Homo sapiens: one gene and its partners. The protein of the gene in region 2 purifies or fractionates together with the protein of the main gene of each other region. This does not show direct contact. Each region holds a gene or a part of one and is shown on either strand. Other genes may lie near its edges.

Evidence for each region.
Region 1: the proteins of AATK (region 2) and ATAD3A purify together in Homo sapiens (affinity purification with mass spectrometry; 2 studies listed by BioGRID and IntAct, with this or other methods). This does not show direct contact.
Region 3: the proteins of AATK (region 2) and P4HA1 purify together in Homo sapiens (affinity purification with mass spectrometry; 2 studies listed by BioGRID and IntAct, with this or other methods). This does not show direct contact.

What each region holds. Positions count from the first base shown.
Region 1 is NC_000001.11:1,522,162-1,529,183, forward strand, and holds part of ATAD3A (ATPase family AAA domain-containing protein 3A), read left to right. Parts: intron 1-582; coding exon 583-738; intron 739-1,349; coding exon 1,350-1,406; intron 1,407-1,677; coding exon 1,678-1,803; intron 1,804-2,111; coding exon 2,112-2,236; intron 2,237-3,078; coding exon 3,079-3,130; intron 3,131-4,299; coding exon 4,300-4,370; intron 4,371-4,999; coding exon of another isoform or gene 5,000-5,114; exon of another isoform or gene 5,115-5,521; intron 5,522-5,533; coding exon 5,534-5,701; intron 5,702-7,022. UniProt on the Homo sapiens protein: Essential for mitochondrial network organization, mitochondrial metabolism and cell growth at organism and cellular level. May play an important role in mitochondrial protein synthesis. May also participate in mitochondrial DNA replication.
Region 2 is NC_000017.11:81,128,202-81,135,223, forward strand, and holds part of AATK (serine/threonine-protein kinase LMTK1), read right to left. Parts: exon of another isoform or gene 6,301-7,022; coding exon 6,167-6,300; intron 5,108-6,166; exon of another isoform or gene 4,995-5,107; intron 4,094-4,994; exon of another isoform or gene 3,844-4,093; intron 3,754-3,843; exon of another isoform or gene 3,701-3,753; intron 3,005-3,700; coding exon 2,860-3,004; intron 1,421-2,859; exon of another isoform or gene 957-1,420; intron 349-956; coding exon 269-348; intron 1-268. UniProt on the Homo sapiens protein: May be involved in neuronal differentiation.
Region 3 is NC_000010.11:73,065,845-73,072,866, reverse strand, and holds part of P4HA1 (prolyl 4-hydroxylase subunit alpha-1 isoform 2 precursor), read left to right. Parts: intron 1-686; coding exon 687-838; intron 839-3,883; coding exon 3,884-4,021; intron 4,022-7,022. UniProt on the Homo sapiens protein: Catalyzes the post-translational formation of 4-hydroxyproline in -Xaa-Pro-Gly- sequences in collagens and other proteins.

The DNA.
Region 1 (7,022 bases), on a different chromosome or scaffold from region 2:
CCCAAGTAGATGGGATTACAGGCATGTGCCACCATGGCCAGCTAATTTTTTGTATTTTTAGTAGAGACGGGGTTTCTCCATGTGGGTTAGGCTGGTCTTGAACTCTTGACCTCAGGTGATCCACCTGCCTCAGCCTCCCAAAGTGCTGGGATTACAGACCTGAGCTACTGTGCCCAGCCAGCCTAATTGATTTTTAAAACGAGTTAGAGATTTTGGGTTAGTCTTGTTTTCCAGGAATAAAGTACCATTTTTAGTGGCCAAGAATGTACCAGAGGGTGTGGCCCTGTGACATCCGGCTGGGTCTGTCCAGGGCCCCGCTCAGCGACCGAGGCTTTCTAGGATTTATGCTGCCAGTTGCAGAGAAAATGGCCCTGAGTGAGGGCGCTGTGACTGCCCCACCTGCCTCCTGTAACCGCGTGGCTGTGGGATTCGGGGCCGGGAATTCGCGTTCCTGTGGGGCCAGTGCACGGCCCTGTGCTTCTCCCTCGGGCGGAGAGAGGGTGGGGGCAGCCCCGTGCGTCTCCTGCTCTAAGAGGGAGGGACGGTGGGGGCCGGTGCGCCAGTGCGGTGTCTCTGCTGCAGGTGGCTGGGCTGACGCTGCTGGCTGTTGGGGTCTACTCAGCCAAGAATGCCACGCTTGTCGCCGGCCGCTTCATCGAGGCTCGGCTGGGGAAGCCGTCCCTAGTGAGGGAGACGTCCCGCATCACGGTGCTTGAGGCGCTGCGGCACCCCATCCAGGTAGCAGCGCAGGCCTGGCCCTCCCTGAGTGCAGTTCCTGGCTGAGTCCCTTCTGCCCCACGAGCACAGCCCACGCACACCCTCCCGTCCCTTCCCTTTCCCCGGATAACGGGCACCCGCACACTGCTTCACGGGTGGGTTTTCCTGTCTGGCGCTGTACCTTAGGGGTCTGCATCAGTGAGACCCTTCCCCTGTCTGCCTCGGTGTCCCCTGCTCAGGGCTCTTGATGGGGCCTGGGAGCACATCGGGGTCCTTGCAAGACCCGGGACTTGGGTGTGCGGCCGTCTATCAGGGAAGCTGCTACAGGCCACGGCGTCTGGTGGCCTCCCTGGGGAGCCGCGCCGCTCGCCGCCCCCGAGGTGCCTGCTCTCCACAGGTCACTGGGTAGGTGGTTAAGAAAATAAAAGCCAATAAGGAACCGGAAAATGCCCCTAATCCCAGCAATAGCCGCCTGGTCTCCGGGCGGGGCAGGGTTCCAGCTCCGGGCCGGTCCTGGCTGTGCTTTGGGGCAGCTCCGTTTCTGCGTGTTACCGAGCGTGTGTGTGCGCGTTGGTGGCTGTTCCGTGGCTGTGGCAGGTGACCCGATGGCGCTTCCCCTTCCCCTCCGGCAGGTCAGCCGGCGGCTCCTCAGTCGACCCCAGGACGCGCTGGAGGGTGTTGTGCTCAGTGTAAGTCGGTGTGCCTGGGACCGGGGAGGCGCAGGGAGGGGACCCTGGAGCTGGGCCGGGCTGTGGCCCTTGCTGGCGCTCGTGGTGGCACCCAGGAGCTTTTGGGTCCTGAGATGCGACTGCTTGGACCGTGCTGGGGATAGATAGGCTGCCCCTGAGGTGGGAGGCTTCCCGAGGAGCCGAGTCTGCACCCAGGCATTCCCGCAGCCCCTTCCCCTGAGGCTTCCATGGGTGCACAGTGTCTCCTCCAAACCCCCGTCTTCCCCGGCAGCCCAGCCTGGAAGCACGGGTGCGCGACATCGCCATAGCAACAAGGAACACCAAGAAGAACCGCAGCCTGTACAGGAACATCCTGATGTACGGGCCACCAGGCACCGGGAAGACGCTGTTTGCCAAGGTGAGAGCGCCTGGCTGAACAGGTGGGCCAGGGGCCGCTGGGGTCTCACCTGCCTGCAGGTGTCTGGGGGGCTCAGCTGCCTGGGGAATGGACCCCCCTTAGGCCTTTGCCCACCCTCGTGTAGGCTCAGGGTGCTGGTGTGGGCAGCAGCGCCTCCCATCTTCCAGGCGGGGGACGTCTCCTGTCTGGCAGGCTGTGGCTTCCAGGCAGGGACGCTGGGCAGAGCCTCCACACTCCGGGTGGAGTGTGCAGGCTTTGCAGAGGCGGAGGGAACATCTGCTCTGTCTCCCCTCACTCTTCCTGTCCAGAAACTCGCCCTGCACTCAGGCATGGACTACGCCATCATGACAGGCGGGGACGTGGCCCCCATGGGGCGGGAAGGCGTGACCGCCATGCACAAGCTCTTTGACTGGGCCAATACCAGCCGGCGCGGGTGAGACGTCCCCACAGCATGCACCAGGCCCTTGGCTGCGGCCCAGCAGGCTGCCTTCTGGGAAGGGGGTCCAGGTGTCTCTTGGGGACCCTGTCTTTCTGCAGCTCTGTCCTTGTGGCCACGCAGGAGGCCCAGTGGAGGGTCCCTCGGAGGGAAAGTCCCCTGAGTGTGGACCCTGGTGGACACGAGGCCCCCAGCGTGTGGAGGCTGCCAGTGGGATACTTGGCTCAGGGCAGAAGGGAGGTGGGTGGGTGCAGGGGGAGAGGAGTCTTCACAGCTGCAGGGGAGGCTCCTCCACAGCCGCCCTCCCCCCAACACGCCTGCAGGTGGGCGTGGGCACTGGTTGCCTTTTCTAGAACCATTTGAAAGTTAGCTGAAGACAGCATGGCACACTCCCTTCAATAGGTCCCACAGTGACCCCGCGCAGGGCACAGCCCGGGCACCCTTGTGGCCTCGGCTGTCCTCGTTGGAACCACGATGCTCATGGTTGGCACCCTCCCCTCTGGCCTTTGACCTTTCACTTTAGAAGACCTGTCCCTGTCGTGGACTCTAAGCGGCCACCAGTGCTGCACTGGGCCGGGTGGGGGTGAAGCCTGTGGGGCGGAGTTCGTCGCCCCCGTGTGTGGTTGGTTTCCCACGGCCTTCTGAGGCTGGGCCGTGGTCAGCTGCCCAGAGGCCAGGCTGATCGGCTTCTGTCGAGTCCAGGACTTAGGGCTGCTGATGGGGCAGAGCCTGACCCCGTGGGGATCTGCCTGCTTGGCCTGCTCCTGCCGCGGCCGGACGCTGCTGTGGGCTGCTCCTGGTGTCACTCTCGCCCTGCTTGGCCTCCCTCTCGTTCACAGCCTCCTGCTCTTTGTGGATGAAGCGGACGCCTTCCTTCGGAAGCGAGCCACCGTGAGTGTCACTAAGCCTCTGGCCACAATGGGGTGGTGGGGTGGGCACAGCCGTCTGCCTGGGCCAGGCTGCAGCCCTCTGTTCAGTTTCTTTTTCTCTGTAAGCTTTGTGTGAAAAACAGCTTTTTTTTTTTTTTTTTTTGAGAAGAAATCTCGCTCTATCACCCAGGCTGGAGTGCAATGGCCCCATCTCGGCTCACTGCAAGCTCCACCTCCCAGGTTCACGCCATTCTCCCGCCTCAGCCTCCCAAGTAGCTGGGACTACAGGCTCCCGCCACCACACCTGGCTAATTTTTTGTGTTTTTAGCAGAGACGGGGTTTCACCGTGTTAGCCAGGATGGTCTCGATCTCCTGACCTCGTGATCCTCCCGCCTTGGCCTCCCAAAGTGCTGGGATTACAGGCGTGAGCCACCACGCCCAGCCTTTTAATTATCATTCTAAGACAGGGTCTCTGTCGCCCAGGCTGGAGTGCAGGGGCGATCACAGCTCACTGTTGCCTCGACCTCTGGAGCTCAAGCAATCCTCCTGCCTCAGCCGCCTGAGTAGCTGGGACTGCAGGGGCACAGTGGAATACCTGTCTAATTTTTTTGTAATTTTAGTAGAGATGGAGTTTCCTCACGTTGCCCAGACTGGGCTCAAACTTCTGAGCTAAAGAGATTTGCCTCCCTTGACGTTCTGAAGTGCTGGGATTACAGATGTGAGCCCCCGTGCCCGGTCAGGCTTTCTTTTCTTTTTCTTTTTTTTTTTTTTAAGGCAGAATTTTACTCTGTTGCCCACGCTGGAGTGCAGCGGTGCAATTTCAGCTCACTACAACCTCTGCCTCCCAGGTTTCAGTGATTCTCGTGCCTCAGCCTCCCACGTAGCTGGGACTACAGGTGCGCCACCACGCCTGGCTAATTTTTGTATTTTTAGTAGAGACGGGGTCTCACCATGTTGGCCAGGATGGTCTCAAACTCCTTACCTCGTGTGATCTGCCCGCCTCAGCCTCCCAAAATCCAGGTTACATTCGTGAGCCACCGCCCCTGGCCCTGGTCAGGCTTTTGAGAGTAGATCCATGAAAGTGTCGCCATGTCCCTGCTCCCTGCAGGAGGGAGGCCTGTGGGACTTTCTGCTGTGGCTGTTTACAAGGCTTTGCTCCTGGTGCCTAAGGCTGGAACCTTCTCTCTGCAGGAGAAGATAAGCGAGGACCTCAGGGCCACACTGAACGCCTTCCTGTACCGCACGGGCCAGCACAGCAACAAGTGAGGGAGCCCCTCGGGTCCTGGGCCCCCGGGCAGGGCTGTGCAGCCGTCGCCCTTGGTTCCCACCGAGGGACCTGAGGGGCCCTGGCTCACAGTGCTGGGCAGCTGCCGTGGCCTCAACATGCCCACCTCGGATGTCCCCTGGGAACGGCCCAGCTCGGGACAGCACGGGGTGTCACTGAGGAACATGCGGGGGCCTCCCGGGCAGAGCTGGGGTCAGTCCTGTCCTCACGGCCCTGTGCGCCGCCGCCCCAGCTTGCAGGTCCCTCTGCCCCTAGGTTTCTGCGGTCCTGTGCCTGCAAGGGAGGTGGTCTCATCGTGTGAGGCTCTGCTGGGTCTCCCTTGGAGGGTGTGTGTGCCCTGGGGTGGGAGATGGAGACAAGTTTGCTCCCACGGGAAGTTGGACACCAGCAGGTCCTGTGTGTCGGGGCGGAACCTGGGACCTTGGTCCCCCGCCCGGATGCTGGCCAAGGGTGCACCCTCCAGGCTTGGGGCCCACCCGACTTTGTGTGGCCTCTGTGGGCTGCCGCCCAGAGGTCCCCCATAGGGTGACCGCCCCATGGCCAGGCTCCCTAGTCCCTCCCAAGTCCCCTAATTTTGAGTTTTCTTGGTCTCCTGGGCCCCTCCAGCCCCAGTCACGTGTCACACGGAGGATCAAGTCCTGCTGGTCGGCCGTGGCTGACTCCTCAGGCACGTTGGGCTCCCAGGTCAGCTGCTGCCGGTGGATGCTCCCTGGAGCCCTGACTCGGGTCCTTCCCAGAGAGGCAAGGCTGGGGCCCTGCTGAGCCTCCAGTGAACCCGGGCCCCTGAGGTCCTGCTCCTGGCACGTGTGGGCGACTTCTCGACATGGACTCCGGGTCCCGAATCCCTGCTCCCAGCACAGCAGGGGTCAGGCAGCAGGAGAGAGTGGTGTTCCCGGCACTGCCTATCAGGCTGGGCGAGGGTCAGCGGGAAAGCACTATATGGAGGGAGAACAGAGGCCCAGGAAGCCAGGCCGGGGGACAGCTGGGTGCAGTGGGGCAGGTGGCCGACCAGGGCTGTGCCCGTGTCCTCGTGTTTCCCGCCACTTTAGGTTCTCCCTGTGGGGGCTGAGGAGGCCCCGTTCCCCTTGGTGCAGCTCGGCCGGCAGCCCCAGCATCCTCATCCTCATCCCCGCCCCGCAGGTTCATGCTGGTCCTGGCCAGCAACCAACCAGAGCAGTTCGACTGGGCCATCAATGACCGCATCAATGAGATGGTCCACTTCGACCTGCCAGGGCAGGAGGAACGGGAGCGCCTGGTGAGAATGTATTTTGACAAGTATGTTCTTAAGCCGGCCACAGAAGGAAAGCAGTAAGTGTCCCGCCCCACCAGCCCCCGTCCAGGGGCCCTCGCTCAGGGTCCACCCCGACCCACAGTCCACCATCACTTACAAACCTTTAACATTCCTTTTTTTTTTTTTTTTTTGAGACAAAGTCTCATTCTTGTCGCCCAGGCTGGAGTGCAGTGACACGATCTCAGCTGACTGCAACCTCTGCCTCCCGGGTTCAAACAATCCTCTTGCCTCAGCCTCCTGAGTAGCTGAGATTACAGGCGCCCACCACCATGCCTGGCTAATTTTTTTTTAATTTTTAGTAGAAATGGGGTTTTACCATGTTGGCCAGGTTCGTCTCAAACTCCTGACCTCAAGTGATTCACTCTCCTCAGCCTCCCAAAGTGCAGGGATTACAGATGTGAGCCACCGCGCCCGGCGTCTTTTCCATTCCTCTTCACTACGAGGAGGGCTGTGAGGAAATCTTGTGCTCGGCCACCCCCAGGCCCTGGCTGTGAGGGGAGGTGATACGGAGTGTTGCTCTGAGACCCCCGTGTCGGGATTCGAAGGAGTCTCTCCTCATGAGACCCCCGTGTCGGGACTGGAGGGAGAGGCTCCTCATGGTCCACTGCTGGCTTCTGGCCTGGCCTCCCTCCAGCTGCCACACCCGGCCCTGGAGCCTCGTGGTGTGGGGCACGGCTCTTGCTGCTCACGTGCCTTGAGGCTGTCAGGCTCCCTGTTGCTGGCGGTGGGTGCAGCAGGCACGGTGGGCAGAGCCCTCCAGGTGATGAGGGGCCCTGGCACCACACACCGGCTGCCTCGGGAACACTCCAGATGAGCAGAGGCTGCTCCACTTCTTGGCGTCCCCCGGGCCCCGGTTTCTGAGTCCTTCTGTGCACCTGACCCAAATCCCTGCTGTCGCCAGTGATGACAAAAGAGAGCCTGGTTGCCGCTGCCGCCTGCTCCATGCCAGCCCAGCTTTCCGGGCCTCAGTTTCCCTATGCCCTCCCCTTCCCTGGGCTCCCCCACCCCCATGGCTGCTCGTAGCCCTGGCACCATGACTTGGCTTCTGTGGCCTCCAGGCAGACGCTTTTGCTAGAAGTCGGGGCTCCGCCACTGCCAGCATAAAGGCCACCTGCCCTGCGGGTGCTGAGTGAGCAGCTGTGGGCAGGGCTGGTGTGAGGAGTGGTTGGGGCCATCTCCAGGCCCTGCAGCCACTCCCTGCTCAGTCCGGGCCTGGCCTGCAGCAGGGAGGATGTGGAGCTGGGCTGTCAGAAGTAGAGAGCCCCTCCAAAGAGGATGTTTGGCGTGGGTGTCGGCCTCGCTGCCTGTCTTCCGGCCTCCACCTCGTGTTGTGGGAGC
Region 2 (7,022 bases):
TAGGCCAAGGTCAGGGGAAGGCCATGAGCAAGAGGCTGCTCCTCTCCCTCCCAGGGCCCCTCCCCAGGTACCTCTGACCCCAGGACCCCCTAGGGAGAAGGGGATGCAGCCAGATGCTGAGGACCTCCCTGGGGAAGGGTCCAGCAGGGCCCAGAGACTGAAGAAGGGACCGTCGGGGCTGGGGTGGCTCCTAGGAGGAGCAGGTCTGCAGCCCTGTGTCCCTTCTGCCTCCCAGGCGGGAGTCCTCCCTCCCAGGCGGGACACGTACCTTCCCGAACCAGCCACGGCCGATTTCCTTCAGGTACAGGAGGCTGTGCCGGCCCACGTCTGTGGACTTGAGGAGCTGCACTGTAACCAAGCAGGGGGTTCAGGGACCCAGTGTGGCCTCCGCACCCCCCAGCTTCCTCACCCGGCCCCTGGAGGGGCTGCCCGCTTGGCCTTTTCTGGGAAACTGTCCTGAGTCCCTAGCACCAGCTGGCAACCTTGGGGCCACCATCAGGAGCCAGGGTCTCTTGAGAGCAGGGGCCGCTGCTTCCCAGAAAAGCCACGGAGCTGCAGGATCCATCCGGGCATCTTTCTGGGTAGGTCTGGAGAAGGTGCCTGAAGCCACTGGGATAGCCCGGCCAGGGACAGCAGGGCCCGGAGCTCGACCCGTCACATGGGCTGCACCAGGCAGGCAGTGTGGCTGAGCAAGAGGCTGGGGCCACGGCACAGAGAGGGCACTGGAGCGGCCCACCCCCACCCTGCCGCAGGCTGGCATCCCACGCCGGGCGCACCAAAGGCTCCTTTGTTGGGGGCTGCTTGGCACGGCCCCGCACGGAGCACACTGGCCCATTCTCCCCGAGGGCCAGGCCGGGTGAGGTCAGCGGGAGGAAGGGTCAGTGAGGCCCGGGACGAAGGGGCCAGCGCTGGCAGAGCCCACTCATGCCTGCCCACGCCCCGAGGGATTCCCCGAATTCTGCTCCCACGTCAACTGCCCAGAGGGCTGACAGGCCTGGGTCTGAGCCTGGCTGCCAGGAGAGCCCAGGGGGAGGGGGCTCCTTCCAGGGCCTGGAGACCCAGAGAATGTAGAGGCGGGGCAGGGCAGAATTGAGCGTGTGGGCCCACCGGGTGCTGTGTCCTGAGCCCAGCCTGTCTGGGCGGCCCTCTCTCACCCTGGGGCGCCCAGGCCCACACTGTCCCTGAGCAAGTGTGGGGGTCCTGACCATGGGTGCTGAGACAGTTCAGAGGCCCTGGGCACTGCCGGAGGCAGCAGGCAGCCGTCCTTCTCTGCGGTCCCCAGCGGGTGGGGCCATTGCCCAGGTTTCTCCCCGCTGACCTCTGGGGCTACTTTTCTGACCTCACCCCAATCTCTCTCCTCCCTAGAAGCACATTCCTCCCCCAGAAAACTGAAACCAGAGCTGCAAAAGTAGAGAGACAGGTAACCAGTGCCTTCTTTCGGGCTCCTGTTCGCCAACCCCAGTCCCCACAGCAATCCTCCAGAGGTGGCTCTGAGAATCTTCGGGGGCCAGGCACACACCTGCCCCTGGACCCAAGGGCAGTACCCCCTCGGATGGTCCCTGGCAGCTCCCAGCAGGGTCAGCACAGGGCTCAGGGACCCCCACAGCCATCCGGGAAGGTCCGAGGGCCTCACGCTCTGAGTGGGTGGCTGCAGTCCTCCGCGCCCGCCCACAGATGTACTCGAGCTCAAGTGCCAGCCCTGATTCCTGCCGAACTGGGAACCTGTCCTCCAGGAGATGGGGCAGAGTAGGACAGGCGTTGAGGCCTTGGCTCCAAAGCTGGGGGCTGGGGGCCCTCTCTAGGTCCCAGACCAGTGCCTTGGGCCTCTCAGCCCACGATGAAGGCTAGGCTCTCAGGGCCCAGCCAGGCACAGTTCATAGCCAGCTCTCAGGGTCCAGCCAGGCACGGCTCAGAGCAGGTGAGGTGGCCTGCATGGCACCGCAGTAACAGGCCCTGGTGCCAACAGAGCCCCAACAGGGCTGGCAGGGGCCCCTCCCACTGGCCTGATACCCCTCCTGCCTCTGTGTTCCCAGAGGAGCTGGGGGTGGGCAGTGATGGGGGAAGCCTCAGGCTGGAAGCTTCCTGGGAGGGGGCTTGAGATCTGATAGCTCTGGAGGGACCCGCACCCACCACCTAGGCTCCAAGACAGAACTGGGAGGTCCTGAAGCCTGGCCATTCACCCCCAAACTCCCCAGCACGTCCGCCCCATGTGAGTGGTCGGCCTAGGACCCTAGGATGGGGGCAGATGAGGCTGTGGCTGAGGCCCTGCCTGCACCTGCACTCCTGGGTCAGCCCCACCCCTCGGCCCCTCCTCGCAGCCTGAGTGAAAGGCTAATTCACCACCCGCCCACACGGGCCCCACCAGCGCCCCTCCTCCTGCCATGCACAATGGAACCCGTGTCCCTGAAGGGCTGGCGCTCAAGGGGGCAGGAATCTGGGGTCAAGCATCCCTGGACTGCAGAAGAGCCCCTGCCCCCAGCACATGGCCATGTCCAGGACCAGAGAGCCCGCACCCCTGCCCCAGTGCCCACCCCTGCCCCGTGCCCACCCCTGTCCCTGTGCATAGCAGCCCCTTGGGCAGGGGAGGCTGGAGGCCGAGGGCTGTCCTGGACCCTGCCAACCCCTGGCCGGCCCCCAGGCCCAGGAGAAAGAGGTACATGCACCTTTGGCCCCACAGTGCGGCCTGTGACGCAGCCACAGGGAGTCCAGGGCTGCACACTGCGTCTACCCCACAGGCCACTCCCAGCCCTGTGCTGCCCCCACTCCAGAGCTGAGTCTTCCGGTCTCCCCAGATCACACCCAACGCCCAGCACCTGGGCCCCGGAGGGAGGCCACCCCATCTCCCCACCCAGCCCTCACCTGAGCGCCCAGGCTGCTTGGCCATGGGCAAGGAGACCTCCGTGAGTGGCAGGACGTACACGTCGGGCCCGTTCTGTGCTGCCGTGGCCGGGGAGCCCTGCGCCAGGTCGGCTGCGTACTCGTCCCCCTCCGCATTCTCAAACTCCTGCGGGCCGGGCCGGGCATGAGCGGGGCTTCTCGCAGGTCAAGGAAGGGTGTGGCTGGGCCTGGAAAGGCCCCTTTCTTCCAGGGCCGAGCTCCCAGGGCAGGGCAGGAGGGGGTGCTCGGCCCAGAGTTGGAGCCACCGCCCCTGCAGGCCAATGGCCCAGCACCCCTGCTAACTGCCCTTCCATCTGTCTCCTCTTGCTGACCCCCACGCCCCCGACCAGAGGCTCAGTTGTTCCATGAGGGGCCAGAGGCAGATCCCAGAGCCAAGAGGACCCATCTCAGACTCCAGAAAGGGCGCGATGAGCTGTAGGCACCAGCGCCTCAGCCTGGCCTCAGTTCCCCCATCCCTCCCTGGCGGGCAGCCCAGGCTGAGCCCCACCTTGGGGCCTGAGGGTCTAGAGGCAGGGAACCAAGGGACAGAGGTGAGGGCACTCAGGCCAGCTGGCCCTGCCCATCCAGAATCAGCCCCCAGCACCTCTCAGCCACCCACATCCCGAGCAGCCCCTCACCCCGGGCTGTGCCTGGGGTCCCACCCTCCCATGGCGCAGCTTCGGGGACAGGAATTCCATCACCCCCTGCCCCACAGTCCTGTGGGAGAAGCAATTAAGTGCCCCCACCCCTGCCGGGACAAGGAGCATTCCTGGATGTCTGGGAGCCCAGAGCCAACCGGCCACCTTTACCCTGGGCAGCCCACCTGCCACCGCCATCTGCCCCAGCAGCCTTGGACCTTCACCTGGTGGCCACACCACCTCCGGAGCTCCCAGAACTCCTTAAGAGCCTGGCCCCGTGCAGCCTAGGGCTGGGCCACTCCCTGCCAGGCTGCTATTTTGAAATGTAGAGGCTGCACCTGTATAGGGGATACCCCACCCCCAAGTCCAGGGCACATTCCTGCGCTGAGAGCCAAAGTCTCCAAAGTCCTGGGCCCAGCTGAAAGCAATTGCTCCAGGCACACAATGACAGCCCCAATCCCTGAGCACTTGGTACAGCCTTTCTGTCCTTCCTCACAACCCCCAGTGCCCTGGTGGGGAAGCTGAGGCTCAGAGGAGTCAAGGGACTTCCAGCTGGATGCTGGCCAGCACCCGGGCTGGTGAGTCCGAGGACAGGCAGGTGCAGTGGGAGGGGAGGCCTGGGCTCCTCAAGTACGACGTGTGACCCTGGGGACGCCTCCCTTCCCTGGGCTGCAAAGAGAGGGGCAGGTGGCTCTGTCGGTATTCCCGCAGGCCAGGCCCAGCCTGCCCTTTCGGAGCACACAGCCACTCAGGGATGGGGGACGCAGGTGCTGCGTGGGCAACTTCCCCTCCCCGGGACCCAGAAGACCACCCCAGAAGCCCCCTCTTGGGCCCTCCAATCCCAGCCCCGGCCTGGCCCCACCCATCTGGGCTTTGTAGAGGGGCCCAGGACACAGATGCTGTCTCTCCCTGGGGTCGGGCCCGGGCTCCAGGCATTACCTGCTGCCCGGGGGCCAGCCGGGTCCTGCCGATACAGCGTGCAATCAGGTAGCACAGGGTCAGCATTGGGGGCCTGCCCAGCCCCTTCCCTCAGCACAGCTCCCCACCAGGGAGCCCAGCGCAGGTCCCCAAATCCCAGGAGGGAGCCCAGTGTGGAGGCAGGACTTCCCAGGGGCACACTGGTGCTGGAATGTTCCGGGCACCATGTTCCCAAGGAGGTGAGGAGGGCGCAGGAGGAGGAGCTATGGCCAGCCCTTGTTTGGGGCCTTGTTCTTACAGTGCCCCAAGGAGGGGCCACTTATACAATAGCCCCACTCGTCCCACCCAGGCCCCACCTCCACTCCTGCTCCCGCCAAGACCTTGAGGCTCTGGCCTCGGGATCCCCAGGAAGGCGCCTGCGCGGCCTGGCCTGGCCCCTGGTGCCAGCGGGTCAGGGGTACATCCCAGAGCAGGGTGGGGGCTCTGGGCAGGAGTGCAGACCCCACAGCCTGGGGCCACAGCTTTGCCCCCCAGGCACGCAGCTCCTCACTGGTTGATGGGGCCTGTGGCCACTTCAGAGGGCTCTGGAAGGTTGAATGGGCTGGAAAATGTGGCCTTTAGAAAAGGCAAAAAGGCCACATCCAGCACCGTCACCTGCCAGGCCAGCGGGACAGGTGGGCAGAGCCAGCTCCTTGGCCCATTCTGCGTCATGACATACCAGGGGCAGGGAGGACTCTGGGACTGTCTCCCAAATGGGGGTGGCGCCAGCTGAGTCATGGGTCACTTAGTAGGAAGGCACCCTGAGATACAGACAGGGTGCTGTGCGCGCTGCAGAATGCCTCCTCCCACCCTCCTCCCTCCCTGACTTCTCCTGGCGTAGGAATCTGACCTCTGGCCCAGGGGTGGGGCTGACCCCCGTGGGCGTGTGAACCACCAGAGGTCCAGGCCAGGGTGTCATTTGCTCATCAGCAGGAATGGGACCCATGGAGACTCTGGGAGGGGGAGGCGATGCTGGCCGGGGTTCCTTCTGCCTGGCCCTCCCTGCTGCTCAGAGTTACAGCTGGAGGTGGGCTGGGGGTTTGCAGGGGGAGGAGCAGTGCTTGGCACCTGTCCTTGGCCAGGGGCCTTGGCCTCCAGAGGGGCAGCCTAGTGAGGCCAGGCCTCACCCTTGGCGGGGCTCCCTAACCAGCAGGCTGGGCTCTAGCATCACACATCGTCCCCTCCAGAAGGCAGAAGATACCCCGCGCAAGGTGACTCCAACTGGCAAGAAGGTCCCTGTGCCGGGAAGCTTGTCTGGGCAGCCCGGACTCCCCTTTGCAGATTGAATTCGGAGGGACGTGAGAGCCCCTTGCAGAGGCAGCTCCTCCACCAGGAGTCGGGCCTCTAGGGAGGCAAGCCCCCTCCCACACCAGCTCCAGAGCCCCCGACGCCCCCTGCAAGGCTGTCCTCAGCCTCCGTGAGTGCTCGGGCCCAACCCCAGGCTGGAGTGGGAGCGTCAGACCACGCCCCCCACAGAGGGCCTCAAAGTCGAGGAAGCTGGGGCAGGTCCCTGAGGAGGAGCTATGGAGTCCCTGGGCCAGGGTCCACGTGGTCCCCAGGTGGCCCCACAGCAACTACGGCCACCCAGCAGCCACCTTGATGGCCCCAGGAAGGAGGGAAGCTCAGGGTCAAGTGGACGCTACAGGCCTTGCCTGCGGGATCCCACGACAGCTCCCGCGGCCCCCAGGCCTCACCTTGAACCCGATACCGCCCTTCTTACAGCACAGGCAGGCCAGCATGAGGACGATGACGGCGAAGAGCCCGGAGAAAGACACAGCCACCACGGCGAGGGAGGATGGCCAGGACAGCTCGCTGAGCGGGGCGCCGTCTGCGGGAGAGCAGTGTGGTGAGAGTGGCCATGGCTGAGGGCCGGCCAGGCCCCTGCCCCTGCTCTGGGCTCCACAGCCCCACCTGGACTTGCTGCATTCCAGGCTGGGCCTCAGCACCCTGACCTCTCACCCCAGACCCCACACCTCACAGTGTGGCGAGGAGGTGGCCAGAGCCTGCAGTCCTGCAGCCAGCCACTGGACACCACCCTGGCTTCGCCAGGGGGACATAGGGTTGGCAGAGTGACCAGAGCCTGCCCAGTTCCCAATTCTGGGGTTCAGATACCCCTGAGAGGTCAGGGTCTCAGGGGCTACAGGGGGACCCCCATCTCCCTCCCAGATCCCAGTCACCCCACCTTGCCCCTCTGGGGCTGGGAAGGGAACATGGACTCTGTCAAACACGGGAGACCATGTTGCTGGCTGCTATCTGCTGGCCACACACCAGGCTCTGGACAGCGGGGGCTCAAGGCCCTTCCAGCCTCTGAGGTGCGGGGACCTCACTGTCCCTGAGAAGGTGGTGCTGCCTCTGCCAGGCAGCAGGGCTCCCGTGTGCCACCTGCTGCCTCGAATCCGTCCCCTTGCCAAACCCACTGCCAGGCCCCTCTGGTGCTGCTTCTGTCCTGGGAACCATGGGGAAACCCCGTTCTGCAGCTGCTGGTCCATGGAGCCCCTCATCCCAGAGGGGAACTGACAGTACAGCATCCCTCCCAACTTCGGAGTATTG
Region 3 (7,022 bases), on a different chromosome or scaffold from region 2:
ATTGCTAATATCTTCTATCCTCTTCTAACCTCTTAGTCAAGCCACCTGCTGCAGCAATTTTCCAATTCTACTTATCCTTTACTCCCATGGTTCCATTGTAGAGATTATAGTGATGGTAGCGTTAGTGTTATTTAATTGATACAGTTTTTCTCAAATATGAATTTATTTTTAATTGACTCATGTTCATAGTTAATCCTGACCTGAGAATTCCTGTCTTTTATTTAATGAGTAGCTAAGTGTTCAGTTTTTCATTTTAAGATACAGTTTCTAGAAACTGGATGTAAAAATTTAGTATAAGTTGATTTAAATGAACATGTAATTGAATTTGGGTTGGGCTAATTTGTAGTTTGTAATAATCAGTTATTTGGCCCTGGGACCTAAGTCTAAAATTTTTAGACTTTTACTGGAGGGATTCATTCACAACTTTTACTAAGACAGGGAGGTTCCATTTACTGTAACCATTTGGGAGAAACAAAATTAAAACAAAAAGTCCTATAGTTGTATTGATTCTGCCAAGAGGATGTCGCTTTTTAAAGAGACCGAGACCGTATACTTTTACTTTAAAAAGAAACTACAGATATAGTTGAACTCAAAAACTTCTAGTCATTTTTTTTCTGAGCGTTTCATTAAATTGTGTTTTTCCCTATGAAATATAAATATTCAGTTTTTATGTTTTACATCTGTAGATGGGCAGAGAAGTTAGATCGGCTAACTAGTACAGCGACAAAAGATCCAGAAGGATTTGTTGGGCATCCAGTAAATGCATTCAAATTAATGAAACGTCTGAATACTGAGTGGAGTGAGTTGGAGAATCTGGTCCTTAAGGATATGTCAGATGGTAAGTCTGAAGAGATTCCTGAGTAAGGTAATATTGCCACCATATGTAGAAATAATAAAATTAATGATAAATTCAGTTCCCAGGAAACCAGTTCAGTTCAGTGTTGTAACTGGATTATGCCTGGGTGCATTTGGTTTGAATAGAGTTAATTTAGTCAAAATCCTGAATTCTTTGATTAAAAAAGAAGTAATTTCTTTTTTTGTTGACTTGTTTTGAAATCTGCAAAAGTGAATAGATTATTTGGCATATAGCTTCATTTCTGAGGGTAATCATTTTTATTTTAGGATTACCTTCAAACTTTAAAAATTTATGTCTTTATCTGCAATCAATTTAAAAAAATGTTGGGAGTGTTACTATAAAGAGAAGTATTAGCTGTGTTCTATCTAGTATTTTGAAGTTTAGAATTAGTTTGCTCAATGTGGACAATCAAACTGAGGCTGCAAACAGTAAAAATGAGTAAGTGATACAATACAATTTGTAGTTGGAGCATTGAAATGTTTTAGATACTTTAATAACAGATGTAGAAGACTAAATCTGGACTTTATTAAGGAGGTAAAGGGATTATGCCTCGCCCCCCGCCGCCCCTGCCCTGCCCCGCCAAGAAAAGAAGAAGAGAGAGACGGAAAAGAGCTGAGCTAGTTGTGTAGATAAAATACTCCAAGGGTACTTACCAGTGTTTGTAAGCAGTGAAGTAAACTTATTATGCACAGGGATCAGGAAGCCTTGAAAAGAAAAATATGGCAAGTACTTGTGAATACTTCTTTACTGTGAGAGGGAAATGCCTGTGATTATTTTCTGTACTGTATAACACCTTGGGAACTTTTTTTTTTTTTTTTGGAGACAGGGTCTCACTGTCTAACTGTTGCCCAGGCTGGAGTACAGTGGCACAATGGTGGCTCACTGCAGCTTTGAACTCCTGGGCTCAAGCAATCCTCCCACCTCAGCCTCCTCAGTAGCTAGCACTACAAGCATAGACCACCACGCCAGGCCAATTTAAAAATTTTTCTTTCTTAGAAACAAGGTCTTGCTATGTTGCCCAGGCTGATCTCAAATTCTTGGCCTCATGTGATCCTTCCACCTCAGCCTCCCACAGCGCTAGGGATTACACGCGTGAGCCATGGTTCCTGGCCCCTGAACCATTTTTTAAAGGAAATCGATATATTTATTCTCAAGTAATGAACTAAGTTGTTTTATAATGTGAACCTTGGCACTTTGTTGTTTTAATCTGTAGTAGTCATTCTATAATGCTATGAGAGAGTATATATATTTTAATTTTTCTTAGAATTTTGTTTGTAGCATAAGAGATATTATAGCCTTCTATAAAACTTATAAAACTTGCTTGTAAAATTCCATATAGAGATTGCAACTGAGAGTTGGTCGTAAAACTAAAAATATTGTTGGGAACAGAGCAGGTCAAAACTCCCATGATTGATCTAATAATGGAATTATACTGGTAAAAAGCCACTGCACTTCAGCCTGGGCAACATGGCAAGACTCTGTCTCTAAAAAGAGACAAAACAGCATAAAAATATGCTTGATATAAACTCTAGCCCTCTTCTAGTTATTTGTTCATTTGTACATTTTCATTTCACGCCTGTAATCCTAGTAGTTTGGGAGGCTGAGGCTGGCAGATCACTTGAGGTCAGGAGTTCGAGAGGAGCTTAGTCAACATGGTGAAAACCCGTCTCTACTAAAAATATAAAAGTTAGCCGGGCCTGGTGGTGGGCACCTTTAATCCCAGCTAGTCGGGAGGCTGAGGCAGGAGAATTGCTTGAACCGGGAGTTGGAGGTTGCCATGAGCCAAGATTGCACTGCTGCATTCCAGCCTGGGTGACAGAGCGAGACTCCATCTCAAAAAAAAAAAAAAAAAAAAAAAAAAAAAAAAAGGCCTGGTCTCTTGCTGTTCAAAATACGTAGCTGGCTGGACACAGTTGCTCATGCCTGTAATCCCAGCACTTTGGGAGACCAAGGCAGGTGGATCGTTTGAGACCAGGAGTTGGAGACCAGCCTGGGCAACACGGTGAAACCCCGTCTCTACTAGAAATACAAAAATTAGCCAGGTGTGGTGGCACATGCCTGTAATCCCAGCTACTGGGAGGCTGAGGCAAGATAATTGCTTGAACCTGGGAGGTGGAGGTTGCAGTAAGCTGAGATCATGCCACTGCCACTGCTCTCCAGCCTGGATGACAGAGTGAGACTGTCTCAAAAAAAAAAAAACAAAACAGTTGATTATAAGTTAATGAGAAGAGAGGGAAGTCTCATACCTAACTTTTATTCACAAGTAATGATACTGATATTAAAATTTTAAACCAATTTTTTATTTCTTAAGGAGTGTTTAGCATTCATTCTTCTTGGGGTTATATAGTTATCAGTAATTGGTTTGTTTGATTTTTGCATACTTTATATAAATCCTCTAAGATTAGGTTTATATATTGTAAATTTTGGTTGATCAACGTCATGTTTGATAATTAAACTGATTTAAATATATTTTAGTAAACTAGCTTTGCTGTTGATCTTAAATATATAGTTAATATCTCTTCCTTCTCCTTGAAGAATTCCACCAAACTTTATATATTTACATATTTATATAATGTGTAATACATGGAAGAAAAAAACAACTTTAAGAGCACATATTTTACTTACCATCTGTTATCTGGAAGTATAATTGATTGTCAATGAATGTCATTTCAGACCCATAAATGTGTTCATTTCTCAAACTTAGTGGATGCACTTTGTTTTCTTGCTGTGTTATATAACTAAAAACTCATAACTATTATGTTAGGTGATCTTTACCTGCTAATACAGATACAATTTATATAACAGCGTCACAGTCCTTAAGCAACACTAGGCTTTTGGAAGATTGAACAAGTTAGAAGTATGCCAAGTCTTATTCAGTGTATTTAATTTTTTCTTGTTGAGTATGTAGAACTTTTCATGGTGTGGTAGAAAATAATAAAATAGATTTTGAACAATCCTTATTAAGTCTCTTTATGGGAAGTTTATGAGGTTCTACAGTTTTTTTTTCTTTGATTTATCTATTTCAAGGCTTTATCTCTAACCTAACCATTCAGAGACAGTACTTTCCTAATGATGAAGATCAGGTTGGGGCAGCCAAAGCTCTGTTACGTCTCCAGGATACCTACAATTTGGATACAGATACCATCTCAAAGGGTAATCTTCCAGGTAAGATCATTCTTCCATTCTATAAAATACCTATCACCTAGCTTCTCTGTTGAGTCCATTAACACAATGTTAGTATAAAAAAGACTTGCATTTTAAGATTTTAAATTGTAGTTTGTTTCATAGCCTTCGAAGACTAAAGAATCACCTTCCCTTTCTCTTAGGGCTTAATAGTTACGGGTATGCTTCTAGCTTCTAGCTTGTTACTCTGAAAGCTTGTATTGATAGAGACTAACTTAAGTAGGGAATTTTAGTGTGTAAGGAAAAGAAACTATCATTTCACCAAATGTTTTTATTCAGAACACCTAATACTATTTGAAAGCTTTGTATGTAAAGCTATAAGGGATTGATAGTCAAAGTTTATATGTTAAATAATTAAAAGCCAAGATGTTTTGGGTATCCACATATGTTTAAAGTGTTCCATAGTATGGAACATCCTACTTTCTGACCTATTTTTGGCAAAGTCCTCTTTTTAAGTTACAGTTGCTTTCATGATAATTTACTTTTGCCGTCCCTCACTTTTTCAAAGTTTGTGACTCATTACCACTACTATCTCCTGTTATTGTCAGCTGCAGAAATAAAATATGTTGTCTGTGTCTTCACATTGAAATTGATTTTCTCCGTAAGAAAAAATCACTGGGATGAGTTGTTAATCAAAATGTTTTCTTGCTCATCTCCCTTTATTTGAGGTGAAGGTATCCGTTGGTAAAAACTAAACATGGTATAATAGTAAATAAAATTTCTGTTAAGCTGGAATATAATTCCATTAATTTGAACTTCCAAAAATGTACAAATTTGCAAATTTTCAGTTTCTACTAATATTATACATTATAACGCTTTTGATAAGATTATAACCTTATTTTTAAAATTGGTTTCAGGTTTTCATAGATATTAAATACTTAATATGTGCCAGCTATTATGTTAGGTACTGGGGACACATAATGAACAAGACATACACTACCCTCGCCATTAGGGTATTTAACATTCTTACAGTATAGTAAGATGAGTGCTTGGATGGGAGAAATTCAGGATACCATATGAGCACATCAAAAGAAACCTATTGCTGGACCTCATAAGGGATGTAAAGGAAGAATTCCTGGAAGATACACATTAAAAAAATTGAGATCTAATGGACCAGGAATTAGCCAGAAAAATGGGGGAGAGGGAGACAGGAGTGGGTGTGGGAAAAGTGTTTCAGACAGAGGGAACATGTAGAAAGGTCAAAAGGAGAGAGCATATCATATTCAGATAACTAACATGTAGTTTGTATGGCTTAATGTAGAGTTCAAGAGGTGAACGCACCAGGTGGATATGGGGGTTTGGCTTTGTGAGAGTAGTGAGAGCTGAGACTAGAGAGGTAAGCAGAAGCCATCTCTTGGAGAGCTTTGTAAGCCATGTGGAAGAGATTGAACTGTCCTGAGTGCAGTGCGGAGCTATTAAAAAGTTTGTAAGGGAAATTTATGATTTTTCCTTTTAGAAAACCATTCTGGCTGCCGAATGGAGATTGGGTTGGGGCCAAGGGACGAAGAACCAGGGAGGAGGCTGTTGCAAATATTTAAGTAAGAGGTGGTAGTGGATAGATTATCAAGCTACTTATTAGAGTAGAATAGTAGAATTTGATGATGTACTTGATAGGAATTTCTGGCTTCATCAACTGGATAGATTCCATTTAACAAAATAGGGCTGGCATGGTGGCTCATGCCTGTAATCCCAGCACTTTGGGAGGCTAAGGTGGAAAGGATCCCTTGAGGGTAGGAGTTCAAGACCAGCCTGGGCAGCATAGCAATTCCCTGACTCTACAAAAAAATGAAAACTTAGCTGGGTGTTGTGGTGCTTGCTTGTAGTCCTAGCTATTTGGGAGGCTGAGGTGGGATGTATTCACACTGCTATGAAGAAATACCCAAGACTGGGTAAGTTATTTTAAAAAAGAGGTTTAATTGACTCACAGTTCCGCATGGCTACGGATGTCTTAGGAAACTCACAATCATGGCAGAAGGCACTTCTTCACAGGGTGGCAGGAAAGAGAATGAGGGCCAGCAGGGGAAATGCCAGGTGCTTATAAAACCATCCTATCTCATGAGAACTCACTGTCACAAGAACAGCATGGGGGAACTGCCCCCATGATGCAGTTATCTCCACCTTGTCCCGCCCTTGATAGGTGGGGATTATTAAAATTCAAGGTGATATTTGGGTGTGAACACAGAGCCAAACCATATCACGGGAGGATCACTTGAGCCCAGGAGTTCAAGGCTGCAGTGAGCTGTGATCACGCCACTACACTCCAACCTGGGCAACAGAGTGAGACCCCTATCTCAAAAAACAAAAAGCAAAAAAGAAAACATCCCACCTCAGCCTCCCAAATGTGTGGTGGTGGGTAATAAATGTTATTTAGATTACTATATGTGTTTTGTTTAAAAAATGATTATATTCCCATCAAAATGGTCCTGAATATTATTTAACCCTGATTTCACTGTGTTTAGTCTTAGGGGCAATATTCATTCTTTCTCAGGTGCTTTTTATCTCCTTGTTGACTTTTTTCCTCTTTTATCACAGTTTTGGGCTAGTTCTTATTGACTTTTCTTTCAGGCAAATTCCTTATAAGTAGAATAACTGAAATTTCCTAATCACATTATACCCTATAAGTGGTAAAAATAATAGCATGAATACTAGCATAAGAGTTTTTAGGCTCCCCCAACCCAGATTATTTTCTGTTGTTAATAGTCAAATATCACAAATGTGTTCGAAGGCTTCTTGTGCACCTTCCCTTGTTTAGAGGTAATGACTATTCTGAACTTGGTGCGTATCCTGTCATCTTTTTATACTTTATCATATATATTTTCCATTGTATTGTGTTTTTAAATTTTATGTCAATAGTACATCATACTCTATGTATCTTTCTACAACCTTTTTTTAACCTAATATTTTCAGTAAATTTATCTGTGTTGATCAGATTCATCTAACTGCTAATGTGGTATTGTATAACATTATTTATTCATTCTTCTGT